Homo sapiens: one gene and its partner. The protein of the gene in region 2 purifies or fractionates together with the protein of the main gene of each other region. This does not show direct contact. Each region holds a gene or a part of one and is shown on either strand. Other genes may lie near its edges.

The links. Proteins that work in one complex are often made in the same cells at the same time.
Region 1: the proteins of EIF4E3 (region 2) and TBC1D4 purify together in Homo sapiens (affinity purification with mass spectrometry; 3 studies listed by BioGRID and IntAct, with this or other methods). This does not show direct contact.

What each region holds. Positions count from the first base shown.
Region 1 is NC_000013.11:75,360,170-75,367,169, reverse strand, and holds part of TBC1D4 (TBC1 domain family member 4), read left to right. Parts: intron 1-4,562; coding exon 4,563-5,144; intron 5,145-7,000.
Region 2 is NC_000003.12:71,721,196-71,731,095, reverse strand, and holds the start of EIF4E3 (eukaryotic translation initiation factor 4E type 3), read left to right. Parts: upstream 1-5,693; 5' UTR 5,694-5,728; coding exon 5,729-5,904; intron 5,905-5,912; exon of another isoform or gene 5,913-6,221; intron 6,222-9,900. UniProt on the Homo sapiens protein: Recognizes and binds the 7-methylguanosine-containing mRNA cap during an early step in the initiation of protein synthesis. May act as an inhibitor of EIF4E1 activity.

The DNA of each region.
Region 1 (7,000 bases), on a different chromosome or scaffold from region 2:
TTAGTCCCAAACAATCTGTGTATTTCCTGATTGCAGAGTCAGGAAATACTTAACTTTTGAAGCAATAATGGTTACTCCTGGGAAGTTTTATAATTGGCTGCATAGTGATAACGTGGACTTTAATAAATACAATGAAAATACCGCCAGCTTATTTAGAAAGAGAGAACTTAGAGCTAATACTGAGGACTACACCAGTTTGGCAAAATCATTGCTCTTCGTGACCACCTCCAGTTTCCAGCTGGCTTCCTGATCAAAGGTATCTTTCCTTAGTGCTTTTTCACTCTCCAGATTTTCTCCTGTGTTTGTTCAGGTCTTTGAACATCAGTGTTTGGTAGTTGTAGAATTTGTTTTATTTTGAAATCAGGTAAAATGTAGTTTATAAAATGTTAATGGGTTTTTTGAAGTATGTTAAGTAACTATGATAACCAATTAATGAGAAAGAACAGCATGACATCAAGGAATCTAGAAGCAATATTTTTTTTTTTTTGTCTAGAGTGAGGAATTGCTTTAATGTCTGAGTCTTGGTACTTGATTCTAAATTGTTTTAGTGAGGTCACTGAAGGTGTAACAACAAAATACTAGCTAAAGGTGGCACTGTGCTTTTTCTAAATATAATGAGACCCTTATTTCTGTTGAATTGATTCCTGTGTGTTAATGGAAATGGATCATTTTAACAACTTGCACACTACTTCAGGTTTAATCATAAAGGTGATTTTTCCCTCTCTTGATTGTACATTATCCTGCCTTTATATTGGCATTAATCCAAAAATTAACTCACAGAATGTGGATCTCGATGAGACCTTATCAACCATCTATCAAGTTCCCCCATTCACTTTGCTCTTGAGGAAGTTATCTGGCAGAGGTGCAACAACTATTCCCAGAGGTCTTGAGCAAAATATTGGGGATAGAATATAAACCTGTCAGTCCCTAGTTTGGTTGAGCCTCTTTCAGTATCATTGTTTTGTGTTAATAGATTAAATGCTGCCACTGAGTAGAAATCTTGCCTTAAATTGGTGTGTGTAAATCGTCATTAGGCTCTGTGGGTTGTAGGCAGATTCTGAGCAGCGGAATTATTTGTAGCTACAATATGTAGCTAGGGTGTGTAGCTTGAGGTGCTCTATAACATTTAGAGTCATTCTGGAAACATACCGTCACTTCCTAGTTTGGGTGAATGGTGAGCAGAGTGAGAAGCCACTGCTTTCTATTTTTGGGTGTGACAGATCTCTTGAGTCACCAACGGGAATTTACTAAACTGTCTCAGTCCTGAAGAATTTATATCAGAGTTCTAGGTAGTTTTTCACTCCTATATATATGACTCTGTTTGCTGTCAGCATTCATTCAAGTTCTTCTGAGCCCAGACCATTTTCCTAGTGGCCACAGGGAGGAATTCTAGTAAGCAACAAAATCCCCCCAACTCAGTCTTTCACTTAAGAGCTTATGGTACGATGGTACAGGAGAAAGAGATATTGAAAAGATACAACACATATAAGAAGGATTCAAATTCGTTCAACAATATTTGTAAATGTATGTATAAATATATGTCAGTTAACACTATGCTACAGGAGAATCCTATGATTCCAAAATATTGTATGTATGTACAAGTACTTGATAGAAATTTTATTTCTCTTGCATTGTTTCTGATGAATCCCTTAAGTAAATGCTTCAATACAAGATTTTCATGATTCTCTGATCACTCATTTCCCCGCTATGGATATTTTACTGTGCTTATATGAGCAGTGTGCCCCTTCTGGTGTGGCCTAAGTGAGTAGTCAGGGGCTGTATAATGCTAGTGTTTATACTCTGTGTTTCACATGAGGATAAGCAAAAAAAAAAAAAACAGAGCTGTTGTTAGATTAGTTTTGCAGAGTCTCTGCAACCCATGTCATTCAAGTTGTGGTTAGTCATAACCTGAGAAAAGGTAGTAAAGGTAACTAGAACCAGTTTTGTGTTGTAATATTAGCATCTTAAATTATTAAAGATTAAATTATGTACTCAGTTTAGAATTCAAGATGATAAACTTTGCTTATATAAATTGGATCACTTACAGAATTACATTTAGGTGTTGAGTTTTTACCTGTAGTCACAGGGAAGGATCCTGGGAGACTACAGAAATTCAGCCACAAATCAGTTTTTCATGTAAAAACTCTTGATATGGCGGTAGAGAAATTCAAAAGACTTGACACAATTAAGGTTGAATTGACTTTATGTGCAATCTCAATTGTAGAATGGAACTCTGAGGTTGTATGTAAATCATTTAAATATTTGTAACAAGATAAAATATCTGCAGTAAAATCAGTGCTACAGGCTATATTTCTGATTCCGTACTCTGTAGAGACACTTTTGGAGGCATACTTGGGTTAAAAATTAGATGAAAAGTATTTAGTGGAAATCAGACAAAAAGATTTTGGGTTAAAAATCAGATTAAAAATATTTAGTAATCAGATGAAAAGTAGAGAGAAAGAAGAGATCATTCTCCTAGGGCTTTGCCCACTAGAATCATTTTATTTTTTGCAGGTTTGCACGGTTGAGTGTCAGCTAGCTCACTCTCCATAGCTTTGGCCCTTGCCAGGTAAGGTAAATCACATACTAAGGCAGTAAGAAAATGATGAAGGGTTGAGGTTGCTAGTCACATGTTAGCACAGATACCTGACTTTGTCCCTGAGACATGGCAAGTGTTCAGGGTGAGTCACTGAAGCTATAGCATGTGGATTTTATCCTTTCATAGGAAATACTTGGTCTAGCAAGCGGAAATTCTTGTTATTTGTAAACTATGAATGTTCTAGCAGTATATCCCAAATAATTACAACAGCCCCTCCTTATCCACAGTTTCAGTCACCTGTGGTCATCTGTGGTCCGAAAATATTAAATGGATGTGGCAATAAACTGTTAACATCTCTGAACTCAGAGACCTTGTGGGAGGAATGTGCCTTGTATGTTGGAGAAATAGCAAGGAGGCCATTGTGGCTGGAGCTGAGTAGAAGGGAATTTAGTAGGAGATAAACTCTAGGAACCAATTGCCAATCAGGAAATCTTTGAATCCACCTACGATCTGGAACTGCACCGCCCCCACCATGCACACTCCCCACCCTGCCCCTTTGAGTTCTCCCACCTTTGTGGATCGAACCAATGTACATCTTACATATACTGATTGATGTCTCATGTCTCCCTAACATGTAGAAAACCAAGCTGTAGCCCAACCACCTTGGGCACATGTTCTCAGAACCTCCTGAGGCTGTGTCATGGTCATGCCCTTAACCTTGGCAAAATAAACTTTTAAACTGATTGAGACCTGTCTCAGATACTTTTTGGTTTATAGAATGTACCACATTTTATTTATCTCTTCACTTGCTGATGGACGTTTGGATTGTTCTCAGTTTTAGAGTTGTGAACCAGAAAATCTGAGACAGGTCTCAGTTAATTTAGAAAGTGTATTTTGCCAAGGTTGAGGATGCGCACCTGTGACACAGCCCCAGGAAGTCCTGATGACATGTCCCCAGGGTGGTTAGGGCACAGCTTGGTTTTATACACTTCAGGCAGACATGAGACATCAGTCAATATATGTAAGAAGTACCTTGGATCCGTCTGGAAAGGCGGGACAATTTGAAGCAAAGGCAGGAAGACTCAAAGCAGGGAGGGAGTTTTTAGGTCATAAACAGGTGCTATGGTTACATTCTTTTGAGTTTCTGATTAACCTTTCCAAAGGAGGCAATCAGATATGCATCTATCTCAGTGAGCAGAGGGGTGACTTTGAATAGATAGGAGGTAGGTTTGCCCTAAGCAATTTTCAGCTTGAGTTTTCCTTAGTGATTTTGGGGGCCTAAGATATTTTCCTTTCACAGGGTATTGGGACAAAAGTGCCTTTGAATATTTGTTTGTAGGCTCTTGTGTGGACATGTTTTCCAGTCTTTTAATTTTTAGGAGTGGAATGCCTAGGTAATGAAGTAGGTCTATATTTAACTCCTAAGAAACTGCCAAACCATCCTCTAGAGTGGTGTGTCATTTTATATGTCTGTGTACAATGTATGAGAGTTCAGTTGCTCCCATGTCCTTGCTGGCAGTCTTCTTTTTATCTTAGCCATTCTAAGAGGTATATAGTGGTATCTTATTGTGGTTTTAATTTGCATTTTCTCTGATAGTTAATGCTGATGAGGGATGTCTAGGTTTTAATCTCCTCATCAAAAAAGGTTATTTTGTCCTCATGGTTGGAACTTTGGTTCCTTTCAGCTGAGGCACAAATAACTTTTAAACACAATCAAAAGACATATTATGACATAATAGGTTGGCAGTGGCTTATATAGTTTCATGGTTTTGTTTCTGGGAGACTCATTTAAAGTGGGAAAATATAATCCTGCTATTCAATTTCAATTTTCATTACATTTTAATTTTATCTTGAAGTCATTTATGTCAAATAATGTAAGTGTATGCTCTGTCTCGTGTAGTGTCTATTACTTTGTATATTATTTAGGATGAAAATACATTCCATGTGGTAATAATTGGGCTAGGTAAATGTAAATTGTCTCAAAACTTTCAACTAGAATCAGGGTTTTAATTTTTTCCCCCAGGTTCCTGATGTTATTAGCAGCATAAGGCAATTATCTAAAGCGGCCATGAAAGAGGATGCCAAACCCAGCAAAGATAATGAGGACGCCTTTTACAACTCTCAGAAGTTCGAAGTCCTGTACTGTGGAAAGGTGACCGTGACCCACAAGAAGGCCCCCTCAAGCCTCATCGATGACTGCATGGAGAAGTTCAGCCTGCACGAACAGCAGCGCCTGAAGATCCAAGGGGAGCAGCGCGGTCCGGACCCAGGAGAGGACCTGGCTGACTTGGAGGTGGTGGTGCCCGGGTCCCCCGGAGACTGCCTGCCGGAGGAGGCTGACGGCACCGACACCCACCTTGGCTTACCTGCCGGGGCCAGCCAGCCTGCCCTGACCAGCTCTCGGGTCTGCTTCCCTGAGCGGATTTTGGAAGATTCTGGCTTTGATGAGCAGCAGGAGTTTCGGTCTCGGTGCAGCAGTGTCACCGGCGTGCAACGGAGAGTTCACGAGGGCAGCCAGAAATCCCAGCCGCGACGGAGACACGCGAGCGCACCCAGTCACGTCCAGCCCTCGGACTCGGAGAAGAACAGGACCATGCTCTTCCAGGTACACCTGATCGGACGCTGTCTGCCCTTGCCCCAAAAGGTGCCAGATGGAAGTAGCTGGGCATCCAGTTCCTCCCAGCTCCACCTCTATATAACGAATAATCTAACTTTTATTTGTTTTCCCCTTCAAAGCAGATAAGGCAGGTGGAGGAAGAGTGCAGAGGAAAGTAGGGAAGGGGGGAGAGGCAGACGTGGAGTGTGGAGTATAAGAATTAAGGGAGTAGGGAAGGAAGAGGAGGAGGAAGCAATTCGTAGAACGTCCTGGACACCTGGTAGAGAGAATAAGAATCTATAACCAGCATTTGCCTTGGGGTGATTCTCAAATAAATGCTTAAAAAAAAATTGTAGGCCCGGCGCGGGGGCTCACGCCTGTAATTCCGGCACCTTGGGAGGCCAAGGTACGCGGATTACTTGAGGTCAGGAGTTCCAGATCAGCCTGGCCAACATGGCAAAACCCCGTCTCTATTAAAAAACAAAAATTAGCCGGATGTGGTGGGGGCGTGCCTGTAATCCCAGCTAATCAGGTGCTGAGGCGGGAGAATTGCTTGAACTGGGGAGTCGGAGGTTGTAGTGAGCTGAGATTGACCCCCTGCACTCGAGCCTGGGCGACAGAGCGAGACTCCATCTCAACAACAACAAAAAAATTGTAGAAAGTAAATCTTTAAAGATATGAATCTGAGAGAGTGCGATTTGGCATGGAGAAACAAGGGACTTTTTTTCTAGAGAAGAAAAAACTCCAGAGACTTGTATTTGTATTTTGAGTCGAGGACACACCAATTTATGCTGTCACACCAAAAGACGTTAAAGAAACATCATTGGCCTAAAAATGTACTGAATTGGATACTAAAATAATTTGATGCAAGCTGTAGTATTGGTATAAAAGATCATTCTTAATTCTAAACATTTTTGAATGTTGTACAGGGTATAGAAGGTGTCAGGTTCCGCTTAAAATAACTTAATTCCTAACAATACTCTGTAGAGAGTCTTTAATTCTCAGCTTGTGAGATTTGAGTTTCCTTGGGGGGAAAGAAAAGAGTGACTGTCTTTTTTAAACCTATTTTAAAGATTTCCTAAGAAGGAGATTCCGGAGTATTTTGGTAAATAGTACCGGTGTGTAATATCAGAAGTTTGCTTTATCGGAAGTTCATGAGGCTTTTTTTCACAAATGATAATATTTTATTATAGAAAAAGCATCCCAAATGCAGGATTTCATAAACACTCGTAGGTGAACAAGTACAGCTTCAAAAGTAAATTCAGAGTAAAGAGGCAACACTTACAAACATTTTGCCTTAAGGAGAAAATGTGATGTTCTCCTGCAGAAGTAATCCCACACAGAACACAAATGTGGCTCCATATCATGAAGGCATCAGATTTGCTTTCTGAGCTCAGTATGCCCATTTCAACAATTGAAAATGATGGCAAGAAGTAGCATTGAATATATTACTACTTGATTAAAAAAAAACACACCCCTGATTAAAAAAAAAAAATTAAGAGACAGGGTCTCGCTCTGTCATCCAGGCTGGAGTGCAGCAGTGTGATCACAGCTCACTACAGCCTTGACCCCTGGAAGTTCATATTTTTTCTTTTTTGTTGGTGGTGGTTTTGTTTTTAATGAACTCAAGGTATGTCATTAAAGCCTCTCTAGTCTTTGGTGATGTATTAACTGAATTTCCCCTTTTCTTGGGGTTATCAGATTTGTTCTTTTTTTAGTTAGTCACAGTCCTTGTTGTTAATTTTTCTGAATGGGTTATTTTCAAAGATTTTAATTCATTAGCCCAATTACAGATACATCCTTTTGCTGACCATTTAGAAGAAAGTATGATTATAACTTATTTTTTAAAATTACTATTTTTAGAA
Region 2 (9,900 bases):
GGCCATGCTTGGCTGACTCAGGAGTGAGGACTGGGAGTGGCTGGCACCAGTGGGAATAAAGAAGGAAGAGCAGGCTAGGCACTGTGGCTCACGTCTGTAATTCCAGCATTTTGGAAGGCTGTTGTGGGAGGATCACTTGAGGCCAGGAGTTCAAGACCAGCCTGAACAACATGGTGAAACCCTGTCTCTACAAAAAATTTAAAAATTAGCAGGGCATGGTGGCATGTGCTTGTAGCTACTGGGGAAGCTGAGATGGGAGGATTGCTTGAGCCTGGGAGGCCGAGGCTGCATGAGCCAAGATTGTGCCACTCCACTCCAGCCTGGGCAACAGAGCAAGACTCTGTCTCAAAAAAAACAACAACAATAATAATAGAGAAAAAGAAAAAAAGAAGGAAGACCAACACACGGATTGCAGGCAGATCAGGACGAGAACTCAATGTCTGATAGGTGGATGGATGTGGAGAGTGGGACAACCAAACCTCAAGGCCACATTTTCCAGGCTCAATGACCACATGGACCTCAGTGTCCTCACTGCAGATGCTTAACACATGCCATTTCCTTTGCCCCTTTCTCTTCCATTAGCAGCTCTGAACAAGAGAGGCCTGGCCTGGCCCCTAAAAGATCTTCAGAGGTCTTTTGGAATCTAGATAAATAACACTAGTTGAGCTTTTTCTATGTGCAACTTGCAAGGTGCTTTATAGACAATGTTTTCTTATACATGGCTCAGAGCAGTCCCTTGAGAGTGCTCTTGTTATCTGTACCCTAGATGAGGAATCTGGAGCTCAGCAAGGTTAATAACTTCCCAGAGTCACAGGGTTTACCTATGGCAGGATCTTGGTTAGAGCAGGGATCAGTCTCACTCTGAAGCAATCACTCTTGAACCACACCGCAGCCTCCCCTGACCCGTGAGTATCCCAGAATAGTGTCAAGTCTCCCCTACCTTTCCAAGCCATTGCTCTAGGACTGACCAGCTGCAACACACCTTTGCTGGAAGCTTCAGTGAGGGCCTCTGCCCCAGGCCAGTCCCTTCCTGTGCCCTGTACCTACCGGCACTGAAGACTGCCATCTAGTGGCCATTGCCTTCCTTTTTCTTTTGCTGTTAAAGGAAAACGGAGTTCCCACATAAAAGACAGGCCTGCATATTTATAGTATCACACCCTGTAAACAGGAAACTTCTCAGTGTTAGAGAAGGAGCCCAGCAACATAAACAGCATATTGCCAATGAGTTCCGCCACCCATTCAACAAACACTTAAATACACACACACACACACACACACACACACACACACACACACATTCTATTGGAATGTAGGCTCCCAGAGAGAGGAATTTCTTTTGTCTGTATTGCTAATGAACCTGGAGAGCTTAGAACAGTGGCATTTGCATAGCAGATATGCAACAAATATTTATTGAGTGTGGAATGAATGAACGCCTGACATTTACTGTATCTTTACTATATACCAGGGACTTGACATATACATTTTCTCATTTAATCCTAACGATAACTCGAGAGATAGAGACCATTAGCATGTCCAGTCCTCATATGTGGAGACTGAGGCACAGAGAGGGTAGGAAGCTTGCCAGGTTTAGGGAGAACTAGCTTTGACCCAGGTTTTCTGACATTAGAGACCATGTGTTCCCTCCTTTCAAGGGAGCCACTGGCCAATTCCCTCCCATGTTCTGCCTTTATTGAGTGGAAGGCTCCCTTCCCAAAGTGTTGAGACAGAGGCCATCAATGGAGGGAATGTCACTAGCTAACTCTGTGGCTGTGTGACTTCCAGTGTCCCTGAACCTCAGGTTCCTCATTGGGTAAAGGAGGAGACTGAGTTAGGACCCCTGCCTTCCCTTCCAACGTCATCATTCTGCTGTTCCTGTGACTCCCAGGGAGCAGATGTGAGTAGAAGAGAGAGGACCACTTGTTGCTAGGCAACCAGCACCCACCTCACCCATGTTGCCATGGTGATGATGAAAGTTGGGCTGATGGGATTACCAGCTCCTGCTAATTGCATATGAGTGCTCAGGTTTCTGTCTCTTTCTTGCCTGCTTGCTCGCTCTGACTTTCTCATTCTTCTAGGAACTGTAGAGCGATTTCCCCCTCTCCTCCATCTGCAGCCTCCCTGAGGCAGCCCTAGTGCAATGGAAAGCAACTGGGAATGGAGCCTGGCTGTGTGTCTGAATAGCTGTGTGACCTTGGGCAGGTTACCCAGCTTCTCTGGGCCTTTCTTTTCTCATTTGGAAAATGAAGGTGTTGGAAAAGTGATCCCTGTCTAAGGTTCTTCCCGGCTCTCAAATCCTTTGATGCCTAGGGAGCTTGTCAGGGGAGCAGACCACACTGTTACTAGGCAACCAGCAGGCACCCTGCCCAAGTTGCCTTGGTGACTGGATGCTGGAGGGGAGGGGAGTAGCTGCTGCAGCTAATTGCTTAATTATTTATGAGTGCCTCAAGTCCTTCTTGTTGTTTTTGTTGCTAGGGGCTGTGGGGTCACCTTCTCTTCCTCTCTTCTGCCACCCCAAGTCGTCTGTGTTGCGTGTCATGCAGTGGGACAGCACGTTGGTCCGGACCTCAAGCTACCCACGTTCTAGTCCCGCCTCTGTCATTTCCTAGAGCTGTGGCCTCGGGTAAGTCACCTCACCTCTCTGGGCCTCAGTTTCCTCATTTGTAAAGTGATGGGTTTGCTTAGATGATCGCTGAATCCCCTTTCTACCTTGAAATTCTAGTTCCTGCCATCCAGTTCCCAGATGAGGGAAATTTCCCCAATTTATTATCTTCTAAGAATGATTCTGAAGAGCAATAAAAATAATTAAGTCTCTTACATATTTCAAACAGGAAGGGAATGAAAGTTGTGACCATTGTTCCCTCCTTAGCCATTTTGTATAATCTCTTTTATTAATCTTAAGGTCATTTAAATTTTATCTATTCATATATACCACCTACTTCCAAAATAAATTTGAGGGGTTCAGTGTAAGGTGCATATATGCTATTAGGTCTTTAAAATAGAAATAGGAATAAATATAAAAATAGTGATGCTTCTTCATTGGCTAATATTGGTGCTGTGATTGAGCACCAAATGTAATTATGAGCAGCCTGGAAGCCAAAGCAAAAAGAGAGAAAGGTATATAATTGCTATTCAGTAAAGAAAAACTGCCAGACTGTTCCTAGTTCTAAATTCTGGAGGGAATTTTTTCATGTGGTACACAATCCTTTTACAGAAACTGCAGATAAAAATTCTTGACTAGCCCTTTTTTGCTGAGGATATTGTTAAAGGACATAAGGAAGGAGCTAAACTTGACAGTTTGACTAGCTTTAATCATTAGAAAGCAAAACTTCCTTTCTACCCATGCCTTGGAATTTTATACAGATATGTGTCACTTCGTAAATATAAATTTTCAGAATCAACCATTATTTATATATCAGCTATATATAAATTCATGTAACCACTTTGCAAAGCAATTTGGCAATATGTATCAAATTTTTAAATGCAGCCAACAATTCTTCTCCAAACTTATTCTGAGATTAGCTTGTGTAGATGAAGAAAGCCATAAATATAAAAATACTTATGGTAGCATTATTTATATAAGAAAATGTCTAGAAACCACATAAATGTTGGAGGCTAGTGAATTAAATTATATTACCTCTTTACAATGAATTACTTTGCAGCCCTTAAGATAAAGTAGATCTATATGTTTTGATATGGAAAAATCTTCAAGGATATAATGTTAAGTGAAATAAGAAGGTACAGCATTGGTATTAAATGCTTCCATTTTGGTTATAAAAAAGATATAGATTTATAACTTATGAATCTAGATATATGCTTGCATGTGCATACTTGCATTTTTCTGGAAGGAAACTGTTGCCAGTGGTTTCCTCTGGGAATGAAGATTGATAGTCTTGGGAGGGAGGGAGACCTACTATTCACAGCTTGTTTTTACGTTGTGGACTTGTTAGTGTTCTGTGTAGAGAGGTAGGAGAGTCTGGCAGTTGAAAGTCTAGACTCTGGAGTCTGAATACCTATGTTCAAATCCCAGCTGTCCCACTTACTAGCTCTGTGACCTTGGGGTTATCTTAATCTTATCTCTGTTCCTCATCTGTAAAATGGGTTAATAGTATCTTCCTCATTGGCTTATTGTAAGGATTAAATGAGTTATTACGGGTAAAGTGCTCAGAGCAGTTTAAACAATGCCATATACCACGCTTCTTGGAAAAATGAAAGGAGATATTAAGCAACAAGATAAATGCATCTAACCAAAAGCACCCTCCCCTGTTTTAGTGTTGGACAGATTTTATAAAATCTGTCATTGCTTCCAGCATTGTATGTTGTATAGAAGTTAAGTTTAAAGCAGCGGTCTTGTTTTTATTATTGTCACTTTATGTGACCTTGATTACCTTTTAGGGAGGGCATCTACTCTGGGATTCATGACAGTCTGCTATGATGCTGTTGATGCCCCTGAACTCATCTTGTTTTGTAGCTCTTCCATCCCAGCGAATGCTCAAGGCATGAACAGAACACATGCTAGGCCAGGTAGAAGGTCAATGAGGAGATGGCATCCCACGCCCTTCACTGTTCAAAGCCAGAGAGGAACTATCTAGAAATTCAAGTGTAAAGAGGATGTCCATGCTGGTTGTGACATGTGTGTTCACAGGCCTCATGCCTTTGCTTTTCTTTTGAAAAAGAAAGTGACAGAGACCTGGGGAGATGCTGTGTTAGGAGGGCCCCTCCTACTTTGGGCTCAGGAATCTCACCGCCTAAGGGACTTCCTGGGTGCTCAGAGGTACAGGAAGCAGAGCGCTCTGTGTTCACAGGTGCCCGCTTTCCTCCTCCCGACTCGCCGGTGCTTTAGGGCAGATCTGGATACTTTGGCTGATTTTGGGAAATGTTCTCTGAAGTTAGCCACACGTTAAGCCAGGCTTGAGGCCTTCACTGTGGTCACATGGTAGCTCCAGAGGTTGGGATGGGGGCTCTGGCCCCTTCAAATCAGCGGAGTTAGGAAGTATGCTCTCACCAAGAGGAATGCAAAGCCCACCTGCTCCAACCTCATGCCCCAGTCGGTGGTTCTCTTGTTCGTTCTTCTTTCTCGCCCTTTGTTCTGTACTCGCGGGCACTGGAGTCTCTTTATCCATTTGGCCATCGGTTCCCCTCTCCATTTATCTGTCACACCCAACTGTGCTTCCATCTGCCCTCCATCCCTCCTTCTCTCCTCCAGCCATCTGCCAGCCTTCACTCCATCCTTCTGACTGCTGGTATGTCTGTCCATCCCTCCTTCCCTCGCACCACGTGGGTCTGGGGCTCCATCCCCTGTCCCATCCATCCCTCCATCTGTCCCTAGCCTGCCGCTCCATCCCGCTGCCCTTTTGCATGGCTGCAGAGCCAGCCCGCAGACCGTTCCCCGGTCCCTCTCACCCCCGTGGGCCCTCTAGCCCGTCCCCGGCCGCCACTCCAGGCCAGGCCGTCAGTCTCCCACGCTGGGCCCGCGCCTGAGCGGGATCGGCCCCCCATCCCTCCGTGGGTCTGTCTTTGTTCGGCGGCCCCGGCCCGGCCGTGCCTCCCACGGCCCCTCCGCGCGGCTCCCAGGCCCTGAAGGCGGCGGGCGGCGGGCGGCGGGCGGCGGGCGGCTAGCCCGGGGCGGGGCGGGGCGCGCGGGGCGGGGCGGGGCGGGGGCCGGGGGTGACTCAGCCGCGCTCGCCCCGCGGTCCGCGCGTCCGCCGGCCTTGCAGGCGGGGCGGAGAAAATGGCGCTGCCCCCGGCCGCCGCGCCCCCCGCCGGGGCCCGGGAGCCGCCGGGGTCCCGCGCCGCCGCCGCTGCCGCCGCCCCCGAGCCGCCGCTCGGCCTGCAGCAGCTGTCGGCGCTGCAGCCTGAGCCGGGCGGGGTCCCGCTGCACTCGTCCTGGACCTTCTGGCTCGACAGGTGAGGGGGCGCGGGGCCCGCCGCGCACGGCCCCGACCCGGGTCCTGCCGCCACCGCCGCTTTGTCTCGGCGCGGCCCCTCGCCCCGGCCCCGCTCCGCTGTGGCACAGACCTCGGCCCCTCCGCGCGTCCGCCTGCGCACCCCGGGACTCGCCCCGCCGGGTCGGAAGCCAGCTTCGGGCCGCGCCGGGCGGCTGTTCGGCGTCCTCGCCTCCGGGCCGGGGGAGGACAGCGCAGCCCGAAAAGTTTCGGCAACACTTTCTACCCCTTGTTCCCTTCCGATCGGAACGCGGCGTGCTGGCAGGGCCGTGGGAGAGGGTAGGCGAGCTGGGGGTGGCCGCGTCCCTGCTGCAGGGAGAGGGCTGTCCTGCTTACCCCGCGGGGCGCCTGGGAGCTCAGGACACGACCTCAGCTGTGACAGCGCTCGGAAAAGTTGCCCATCCCTTGGGAGGTGTGCGGTGGTGCAATGATTATTGCACGGCGGGCGCTCCCACCCCGTGTCCGGCCGCTGCTGCCGTGGACTCCTCTTCCAGTTCTTCCTCATCCACTGGGCAGGTATTTCCTGAACACCTACAGTGGAGCCACACACCTGCTATGCGCTGGAGATTCAATAATGAGCAGCAGCTGACCTTGTCAGGAAGGGGGTGAATTATGGCTTTCTCAAGGGACAACCCAGGTGCCATCTTTTCAGAAAGACCCCCTGACTACCGTATCTAAAATAGAAACCTTGCTCCCTCGTTTTGTATTCTCCTGCCCTGCCTTCTTTTTCTTCCTAATGCTTAATGCAGCTGGATTTTATTATATATGAATTTGTTTACTTTCAGTCTGTCTCCCCAGCTCCTCAACACCTCCCCTCAGTTAAGGATAAAAGAGCAGTGGATTTTTGTTTTTGGACATTTTGGACCTAGAACTGTGCCTGGTCCCTAGTAAGAACACCAGAAATTGTTATGAATGAATAGATGGATGAATGCAAAGCCCCTTCTTAGTGTCTGCCCTGCAGTGGGTGCCCAATGATGACACCTCAAGGTTGTCCCAAGAGCATTTGGAAATTTTGATGAAACCGTGTCTATTCTGGCTAAGTGTTAGGAAGAAATGTGTGACAGTGTTCTGAGAAGTTTGCTTGGTACACACAAATCTGGTTTTAAAAGGCTTTGCATAAAATGACTGCAAGATTTTGTTTTAAAAAAGTGATATTCATTTTTTTTTTGGTTAAGACAAGCTCATTTCTTTTTTCCTTTTGGGTTCTTATAGCACCCGTCTATAAGAATTGTCACTTGCTGCCATTTTCTTTGCCGGAGACCCAAAAAAGTTGGGGGTGGGGGAGATGGAGTGAGTTTCGTTCTTTCAAAACATTTTCACTTTCATTATGGGATGCTAAGAGAGCATTATACTGTCATAACAAGCGTGCTTTTGGCAGACCTTAGCAGAATGAAATCGTGTCTGTTTTCATAGGTGTGCTGCAACTGTGCTATTGTTACCTGGTATCTGTTTTCAAGGTGTTAAACCTGGACCTGTGGTCTAAATTGTGAATACTGCTGACTGGTGGAAACAGTATCAAGAGAGTTTCTTTTTAAACAGGTCTAAAATTAGTTTACATGTAGGAACAACACTTTTAAGGACTGGTCTAAAATGTCAATACTACAGATAACACAATCTTTTAAGACTAGTAGCTTAAGATTATAGTAACTTTAATGAAGACAAAAACTATATCTATACTATTGATTTACACATTTTTGTTCTCTAAAGGTCGATCATCAAATGAAATACATTATTGCCACAGTGTCCAGATCTTTAATAGAAATGGCTGTATTAATTTAGAAATTATAATGAGTTCCAATATTGTACATATGAATTCATTTTGCCCGATCAAACAACTCATAATTTTTATTGAACTTTTTCTCCTTCTGTGGGAATCCATTACCTTTATATAGGGTGCCCCTCTCCCCCTTGAGGTTATGAACACATTATGATCTAGAAGTTCATTAGTAACTTTTCTCCCCAGGTAAACAACATTCTAGAGACTGGTGAGGTTCTCAGGAGAGCCCTCCAAGGCAGCCTTACCTGCAGCATAGCCAATGTCTGCCTGGCAAGATGACATCGGTTTTTGAGTTCCATAGCATGCAAAGGCCTCTTGCTACTTAAAACTCCCCTTTGGCATCCTACCTCCCGGCCTGTCCTACTTTCCAGCCTACTGTGTGCTGATGAGCAAGCCATCTAGCTGCCCCAAGCCTCACTTTCATTGTAAAATGGGATAGTCATAGGCTATGTCTCACAGGGCAGTTCTGAGGATTAAATGAGAGACATGATGTACAACACCTAACAGGTGCCAGCTGGTAGAAGGAGCTTCCTAAGCATAAACTACTAACACTGTCATTACCATGCTCCCCAGCTACCAACCCCTCCCCATACCCACACCCCAACAAACAGTCTCTGGAGCAGCTTGTCTGAATTCTGTGTTGGGAAGCCAGAAACCTAAATTCATTCCCCTCACTGGATGAGTTGGAGAACTCCTCTGTAAAGTTATTAGTATTTTTAATAGTCAACTCCAATAAGTCCTTATTTGGTTAAAAAATTAGACTGTATGGTTAAGGATTTCGGCATTTGAGGAAGGTAATTTTAGATTGGGGGTACAGGCTGAAGAGTTTTTCTCCCCTTTTCTGGACATTTAAAACTATCCTGTCTTGATTCTTGGAAGCCACTCTGGGTTATGTGTCTCTAACTGCTTCCTTTTGATCTTATGGTGACCCGCTCGCCTCTGAGTTTTTTCCCACAAGACTCAGGCCTCAGGCCTCTTCTTTGTGCCATTTACACCAGGGATCTCATCCAGTCACAGTGCTTTCAGGTCCACCTGAATTCTGGTGACTCTCAAAACCTTACACTCTTAGATCCAGTGCTCCTTCCCCTTTGTCTCCATGGATGTCCAATGTAATACACAACCAGACTCAACATATACTGAACTACCTCCTCAACTGCCTTCCCAAACTTGTTTCCTTCTATCTGTATCTCAGATAAGAGCAGTTAAGAGCAAGTCTATCCTTCCAGTTGCCCAGCCCAGAAATCTTAGAGTCATCTGTAACCACCTCCCACCCCCGCCCCCCCGAGGAAAAGCCAAAGGGCTTACAGGAACCATAAAGCTTTGCAGCTCTTCCTGCCCCACCCAGGACCCTTTTCTCCCTTGTCACTCTCCCTTCTGCCATGCCCTTCTTTCTGCTCATCGGTCCCCTTGCTCTTTCGCCTTCATCCCAAGCAGGGACCTTAGCCACTGACACCCCCTACTGCTTGGAGTGCTCTCACCTCCATCAGTGCTTGCCCTGCTCTTTCCTGTCCTTCAAGCCTCTGCTCACATGTCACCTTCTCAGACCTTCCATATTAGTCTGTTCTCACACTGCTACGAAGAATTACCCAAGACTGGGTAACTTATAAAGGAAAGAGGTTTGACTCACAGTTCCACGTTGCTGTGGAGGCCTCAGGAAACTTACAATCATGGTAGAAGCCAAAGGAGAAGCAGGCACCTTCTTCACAGGGCAGCAGTACCAAGTGAGTGCAAGCAGGGTAAATGCCAGACACTTATAAAATCATCAGATCTCATGAGACTCACTCACTATTACGAAAACAGCATGGGGGAAGCCACCCCCATGATCCGGTTACCTTCACCTGGTCCTGCCCTTGACATATATGGGGATTATGGAGATCACAATTCAAGATGAGATTTTGGGTGGAGACACAGCCAAACCATCTTATGTTGCCTGACCACTGTTATGAAATGGCGCAAGCATCCTGACACACACACCCCGAGCCCCTGACCCTGTTTTATTTTCTCCATAGCATTACCACCATTGGCTTGTCTTCTCCCACTAGGATGTAAACCTCATGAGGGCAGAGTTCTCGTCCCGGATGCCTTGTCCTTAGCTCCTGGATTGGAGCCTAGCACAAGTCAGTCCGCACTGAATACCCTGAACAGGGTGTTGTTGAATTCTACCCGCAGTGACTTCACCTT